Linked DNA regions of Homo sapiens. The protein of the gene in region 2 purifies or fractionates together with the protein of the main gene of each other region. This does not show direct contact. Each region holds a gene or a part of one and is shown on either strand. Other genes may lie near its edges.

Region 1 (3,652 bases), on a different chromosome or scaffold from region 2:
ATAATGGGGTGGGTGTGGGGACGTCTGGCTCAGCTACCGTGCAGGCAGAATTGAGGGGATATGCTGCTGTCCCTCTACTTGCTAGCCATGGTGTGGTCTCAGCAGGGCCTGGGCCGCAGGCTTAGCCTCTTGTTCGGCATCCCCCAGTGTCCTCCACCAGGAGGAGAACTAGCAGGAGGGCCGCCAGGGTCCCTGGTGGGAGAGGAGCACGTAGTCTTCCCAGCACTTCCCTGCCTGCCTAATGCGGCCTCTCCGTGTTCCTGAGAGCAGCCCCCAATCCCCTTGCCAGCCTTGCCTCCTTCCTGCCCCTGCCCCGGGAACCCCGTCTGGCCCAGTCCCAGCCCAAATCTGAGGCAGCTGCCTGAGGACAGCCTTGTACTCACAGCAACACCCCGGAGAGCCAGGGCCCAGTTGGAGGGCAGTCTCCTCCTGATTGCCCTAGGAGAGCACAGTCGGGCGGAGGGTCCCTCTCTGGAACTGGCATTTGATGTGTGCTCTGGTGAGAAGAACTTTCCCACGGAGCACAGCCTCCAGCCACTCCTGTCCCCTTCCCCAGGACCTTTACAAGTAGATTTTCCCCAGAACTGTCCTGCATCCCCGCCCCTGAGGTCCTGGAGCACAAAGGCGAAATGCCAGGCCCTGGAGGTGGTGGTGGGCTGAGTGGAGGCCCAGCTGTCTGGCCCCACCCTTTGTAGCTGCAGGCCACACCCACCATGTGTGGCTGTCAAGCATCATCCCTTAGACTCAAAAGTTTACCATGATACCTGTGCCCTTATGTTCCTTCCACTCAGGAAGCTGCCCCAGTAAATGACTAGGATGACTAGGCCCCTCAAAAGCCATGTTCAGGTGGTGCCTTCCACGCTCATGTGGCAGAGCCAGGCGCGCACACAGCCAGCACCATTGTGCTGCAAGCTCCTGACTCCCAGGTGGCTGCCACTGCTCCTGCCTACACATCCTCACAGCCACTGTCTAGCAGGACACCTGTTTTTCCCAGCCCGTTACTCCTGTAGCTCTGAATGGAAACAGCAGCTCACATGTCACCTCTGTGTGACGGACTCGGCCCCACCCAGACACACAGGTGTGGTTGTCAGCGAGCACCTCAGGAGAACTGAGAAGCTCTTTTTCACCATTCTTTCCCCAAATCAGTCAAAACCTTTTAAAAACCATTATGAGTTGTGAGAAGGTTTCAACAGCTATGTTTTCAAAGTGTGTGTATATGATGGCACTGTGGTCAGTTCACCAAGAGCAGCACTGAGATGGGTGGATCCAGGTGCACCTTGAAAAGTTAATTGCACAAACCTTTGCTTTGACCCCAAATACGCTTGCTAGTGCCCTTCCCTGCAGCTTCCCAGACAATCAGCAGGGTCCATGGGGGCAGGGCCTGGGCACAGCAATGCCCTGCTTCCTGTCTGCATCCATAAGAGGCCCCTCCACACCGAGGCTGCTTTAGGTTAGCCAACCAGGTGCAGGGGAGGCCCCATGCAGGTGCCATTATACCAACAGTGAGCAAGAAATCAGAAAAAAGAGGACTGCCTTATGTTGAGAACTGACCAGAGATTGTGCTGGGCCAGTGTCACTAGGAGGGAGAAACAGATGATGCAGGTCGGGATGAGGCCCCTCCCAGGGGCTTGGACACTGTCCACTCCCTGCTGCCTTAGCTGCCGTTGCATAGTGTCCCCTCCTGTGCCTGGGAGCTTCTAGCCCAGGTGTGGTGTTCTCACCCACCCCTGCAGACTTACAGAACTTGTAAATAGACAGCACCTTGAGATTTCATCACTTTATGCAGATTTCCACTTGGGTCGTTGGGGACAGGGTCTTGGCCTAACAGCCGTCCTCTGACATCCACAGGCTCCCACCACACCACGATTGCAGTCATCGGGGAACTTCTTTTGGTGTCAGGAATGATTGGCTTAAATTAACATTTGTTTGCAAGATCAATTATTTTTTAGCATATAGTTTCTCTCCAAAGAAGCAACTAGGTCTTTAAAGATGTCCCAGTGCTTCTGTTAGATTTTTGACTCTTACCTGCATAATATTCCAAAGCACTCAGATCAAAATAAGACTTTTCCCAGCAAGTAGACTCAAAGAAAAAAAAAAAAGACTTAAAAGATCTATTAATACTAGTTGTGCTCGTTTTAGCAGCATATATACTAAAATTGGAATGATACAGAGAAGATTAGTATGGCCCCTTTACAAGGATGACACACAAATTCATGAAGTATTCCATATATATATATATTTTTTTTTTTTTTAATTAAAAAAGACCTATTAGTTAAATGTGTTAACTGAGAAGCCACATACAAACAGAAGCGAGTGGGAGGAAGAAAGAAGAGCTCAACCTTGGGGCCTGAGGACCAGGAGCTCCAGAGCTCCGAGCTCCTGCAGCCGTCCTGAGGTGTGAGGGTGGCAGAAAGAGACAGATGCTTCCAGGTGGAGCCGCTGGGAGAGGGGATGGGACGCCTAGTTAATAGTGGCAATAGCTGAGACATTCACCCAGAGCAGCACATAGGTTGCAGTCAAGTCCAGACTGACCACGAGTTTGGAAATACTGCCTGAGGCTCTCAGAGTTGGCCATCACCAAAAGTGGGCCCAGAGAAAAATGCCCAGGCATGCTGATAGGATTTCTTGGTATCCTTTCTTGAATCCACATGCAAGAAGATTAACCAAGTGGTGCAGGCTATCAGCCCAGAGTGGGGAAACCCCCACACTTGAATTTGGAATGGAATGTGGCCACGTTCTTCCAGTTTTTAAAACTCAGCGAGAGGCCCAGTCCCTTCTCTGAAGCAGACCACTTGAAGGATTTAGACAGAAAGTGTGTGCCTCCGTGCTCAAAATAGCTGCACACCCACCCTTCCCGGCAGCTGTGCAGCACGCTCACCTGCTTTGTTAGTGAGCACAGCTCTGATAACCAGGCCTGGGCTTCCTGGTGTGGCTTGCTCCCATCCTGGGGCATGCCTATGTCGCTCTAGGGAGGCACAGGAGAGTTTGGAAAGCAGGTCTCCTGTCATGTACTTGTTAGAGTTAGCAGAGGTGCTAAGTCATTGGTGCCCTTCTTTAAGAAAAGAGTAAGAAAGAAGACACAGGCTAGAAGGAAGGGGAGCCTGTAGCCTGATCTTACTCCCTCAGTCAACACCTGAGCATTAAGTGACCAGCTGGAGGTTGTCAGCTGGCTAGTGGCAGAGTCCCAACCCCCAGCTCCCAGAAGTGGACTCTATGTACCCCCAACCCACTGTGGGTTGAGAGGCTCCCAGCCCGGTGCCCGCCAGGCCACTCCCTATATGTGGAATGGCCTTGGTTCCCTCCAGCAGACAAGTCCCTCATCCCTGTTTTACGGGCCTTTCACCGTGTCCCTCCAGACCAGACACAGCCAGCCTCTGCCCACGTGCTCTCTCTTCCTTCCTGTGGGTCCCACCTGGCAGCAACGCAGGAAGGTCCAGGGTTGGCTGGTTTCCATTTCATAGCAGCCTGTCCCCACCTACCATACCAACTTCTCCCAGGAAGAAATGGGGCACAGTACAGTCACAGAAATAAGAGGTAGAGTTGACTGGTAACACCCTTTTCTGAATGCTCTGATGGCATTGCTGAGAATCCCCAGACAGCCCCAGGGATCCTGTTCAGGGCGCCCATGGTGGAGCAAGCTCAGTGAATGCCC
Region 2 (3,652 bases):
TAATACCAAGACAGAGCACTTCCCCAGGCACCTTGTTTTGTACGGAGCAGATTCTAGCCTAGTAGTTCGTCCCTGTGAGTGCCAAACCCTCATGGACCATGCCAAGCTGGGCCTGTGTCTTGGCCCGTCTGTATGCTGACCAGCCAGGTCAGACTCTGGGGCCAATTCCCTGACCTGGTGAGCTCTGCCTGCCCAGAACCCCTGCCTCCACAGCCTGGGACCCACCGACACTCACCAGGGTTGGAGGTAGGCTGGGTGTGGAAAACTGTGCCACCATGAGGTCCTGGTCAATTGTGAGCAACTTCCAGCTCCCACCTGACCCTCCTGGAAAAGGCAGATGCCATTAAGTGCTTAGCAGGAGCCATCACCTTTCTTACCTGCTTCTCTGTAACAGAGTCCCAGGCTGGAGACTCTATGGAAAGGTGCCCTTTTCTCCCCGAGAAGTGCCTTTCACAAACACCCAACTGCACATGGCCCCGGGTGAGCCTCCTGCTCTCAGTCTGTTGTTCATCTGACAGACACTGGCTGGGCTGGGAACTGCCAAACCTTAAGACACATCAGACCATGCAGGCACATCTGCCTGTCCCTCGATGGCTGCTGTGTGCAGGGTGGCAGCTGGGACCGGGAAGTTGGGGGTCGGGGAGCGTGCTGATTTGGGGCAGTGGTGTCCAAGCAGTTGTACAATGAGATGTAGCTTTGGAATGATACTTTGGTAGCTTTGTGGAGGAGCGGATACAGTCAGGTCAGGTGGAGGACTCAAAACACATTTCAAAGGCAGAATCACCAGGCCTAAGTATGGGGAAGACGGGGGAGTCAACACTGGGCTTTTCCTGGGCCCTCAGGTGGCAGAGCTGCCTCTGCCTGAGACAGGCACCCAAGGTTTGCAGAGCGAGAAGGATGAGTCTGGCAGATCTTGATAAGAGAGAGTTTTGTGGGTTTTAGGAGCAGAGGTGGGGGCCGTGCTGAGGCTGGGCCAGGACACATGGAACAGAGTTGAGTGCTAAAGGGCAGTAGAGCAGGGAAGCTAGTCTGTTGGTTGGGTAAGGGTCTGCACAGACAGGGGCCTTGGGGACCTGTTAGTAAAGGCTGTGGAACAGTCAGTGGTGCTGAGTGGCTGAGAATGCCATCACTGCCCCACATGTTGGAGCTCCAGTCCCCCGCTGCCTGGTTGGCTTGCTCACCAGCCCTGCCCTTACCCCCATCCCCAAAGCCTTGCTCACCAGCTGTGAGGGAGGTCACAGTGCCCACTTGGGTGTCCACAGCAAACAGGTCCTGAAGCAGAGGCAAGGCCACAGGTGCGACCACATCCAAGAGTACTCCCTCTACCTATGGGTCCCTCCCCTACCTCCTCTCTACCCTCTTGGAGAGCCCTGGCCAGACCAAGGCTGTGGACAGCTATGGTGATGGTTACTCAGTGCAGTAGGGAGTAGTGTGAGGGCCTGGGTTCAAATCCCAGCACCATCACAACTTGCTGGGTGACCCTGGGCAAGGTAAGGAATGGCTTTGAGCCCCTTTGAGTTGGCACAAGGACCAAATATCACACCCAAAAGGAGCCTGGCACACTGTGAGTGGCTTTACTCCATCCCTGGGGGAAGGCCTCAGTCCTGTCCCCATCAGCTGCCATTACAGAGTGTTCAGGGACCCACCCGAGTGGCAGTCCCCTTGACCCCCAGCTAGAAATGCCTGGGAGGGGTTGCATCTCTGCCTCAGACGAAAAGGCCTGAGTTCTGCTGTGGTGCACCAGGGCAGCCAGTCCCCTCCAGGAGAAATGAGTCCAGGATGGGCAGGCAGGGTTTTAAGGGGCTGATGAGACTTTGTGGCTGGGCATTCCACCCAGGGGCATGCACATGCAACCCCCAGGGCTCCTGGGGGTTGACCACAGGGGCTGCCCCTCAACACAATCAGCGTCCCTCACCTGCCGGCTGCGCTGAGCCGAGTCAAAGACCACTCTCTGGCTGTCAGCTGACCAGCATCCCAAAGGCAGAAGGCTGCAGTAGATCCCAGAGAAGTTCTCTGTAAAGATAGGAGGGCTGAGGCTGCATCCAGGAGTGGAGGTAGGGAGGGTAGTCTACAAGGAAGGCTAGGGTACTGGGGAATTCACCCAGGGCCCTACTCAGGCACCAGTCAGGCCCCTGCAGCTTGTAGCACACATGGGGGCACGCTACGCGATGAGGAGCTGCCTGAGTAGGTGGCTGAGGGGCAGAGGCCTCTTGGGACCCAGAGAGGACCCAGAGAGGCAGAGCTCAAGAGCTCCAGAGAGAAACCATGGGTGCTCAGAGGAAAAGCACTTGCTCTCCTGAGTAATTCCAGTTGAACCCAGGTAGGTACCAGGTGCTTTAACCAAGATATCATCTGTCCGTCTTATCTCCACTGTGGTGCTTAGCACAGCGCTTGGCACAGGGGGCTCAGTAAATCCTACCCTTTAATATCATCACTCACTTAACACTCACTATGATCCTATGAGGCAGGCAGACACAATCACCCCTCCATGAAGAAATGGGAGCTCAGGGAGGCCAGGACCCTGTCTGAGGACACAGCTAATTTAGGGCAGAGCTGGGATTCATACTAGGTTCCCACCACTGCATCCCTGCAACCCAAAGAGAAGACAAAGAGGCTATCCCTTGTCCACTGAACTCCTGGAACTGACCGGGTGGCCTGAGAAAACAAGAGACTCATCCTTGAGATGGTCCAGGAGGATCCAAGCAGAGCTATCAACACTCGAGACGGGAGCCTCTCAGCCAAGAGCCACCCTCCTGAAGACCCAGCTGACTTCAGGGCTTAGACTGGACAAAGGTTGCTGGGGTTAGGATGGTGGATGGGATAATATCATGCCCTCGGGTCCAGAGCCTCTCGAGTGTGACATTCCAACCTAGTGCACTTCCTGAGACCCACTTGAAGGAGTCATGGTTTTGGTTTGAACCAGCCATTGGAAAAATAAGAAAACTCTAATTATGACCTGCAGCACAGGAAATAATACATCATCAACTTGGGCCACTCTGATCTCAGCTTGGTCCTACCACTCCTTGCTATTGAACTGTTCCCTACGGTGACAGCCCCGCTCCCTATGGTGACAGCCCCGCTCCCTGAGGATGCTGGGCATAAGGCTGGCCCAGCAGGGAGGTAGGGCCCTCAGAAGGAACCTAGGAAAGAAGAACGGGGCAGGGATGCAACAGACGGCAGGAAAGCAGAGCTACAGGCCCCACTGCACCCACCCAGCCAGGTATGCCTTACCTCCCAGCTGCCGAGGCACAACATCTACCACCACTGAGGTAACCTTGGTATACCAGTCATACTGCAAGAGAACACAATGGTCAGGTCCAGTAGGGGACAGGCAGTTCCCTTAGGGCACAGTGCCCTGTGCCTATCCCCTTTTGCCTCAGGTAGCCCCAGGAGATGGGGGAACTGGAATAAGCCTGATGTATCTCTTTTCTGGTGACCTGGACCAGATGCCCAAGGGGCCTCAGATAGGCATGTCCCTCTGACTTTTACCAGGGGCCCAGAGCTCTTCCTGGGGAGGGTCTGGGATTGTGTAACTCCCCACTATATCCCAGCCCCTTGCAGAGCCTGGCTACATGCAGTTGAGAGCCAAGGGGAGGAGCATTCTTGCAGACGAGCATTCTCTCAAGGTGGAATGCCCCAACAGTGCAAAGCT

What was found.
Region 1: the proteins of APEH (region 2) and MPRIP purify together in Homo sapiens (affinity purification with mass spectrometry; one large-scale study listed by BioGRID and IntAct). This does not show direct contact.

What each region holds. Positions count from the first base shown.
Region 1 is NC_000017.11:17,167,957-17,171,608, forward strand, and holds part of MPRIP (myosin phosphatase Rho-interacting protein), read left to right. Parts: intron 1-3,652. UniProt on the Homo sapiens protein: Targets myosin phosphatase to the actin cytoskeleton. Required for the regulation of the actin cytoskeleton by RhoA and ROCK1.
Region 2 is NC_000003.12:49,677,213-49,680,864, reverse strand, and holds part of APEH (acylamino-acid-releasing enzyme), read right to left. Parts: intron 3,293-3,652; coding exon 3,232-3,292; intron 2,014-3,231; coding exon 1,916-2,013; intron 1,273-1,915; coding exon 1,221-1,272; intron 325-1,220; coding exon 236-324; intron 1-235. UniProt on the Homo sapiens protein: This enzyme catalyzes the hydrolysis of the N-terminal peptide bond of an N-acetylated peptide to generate an N-acetylated amino acid and a peptide with a free N-terminus. It preferentially cleaves off Ac-Ala, Ac-Met and Ac-Ser.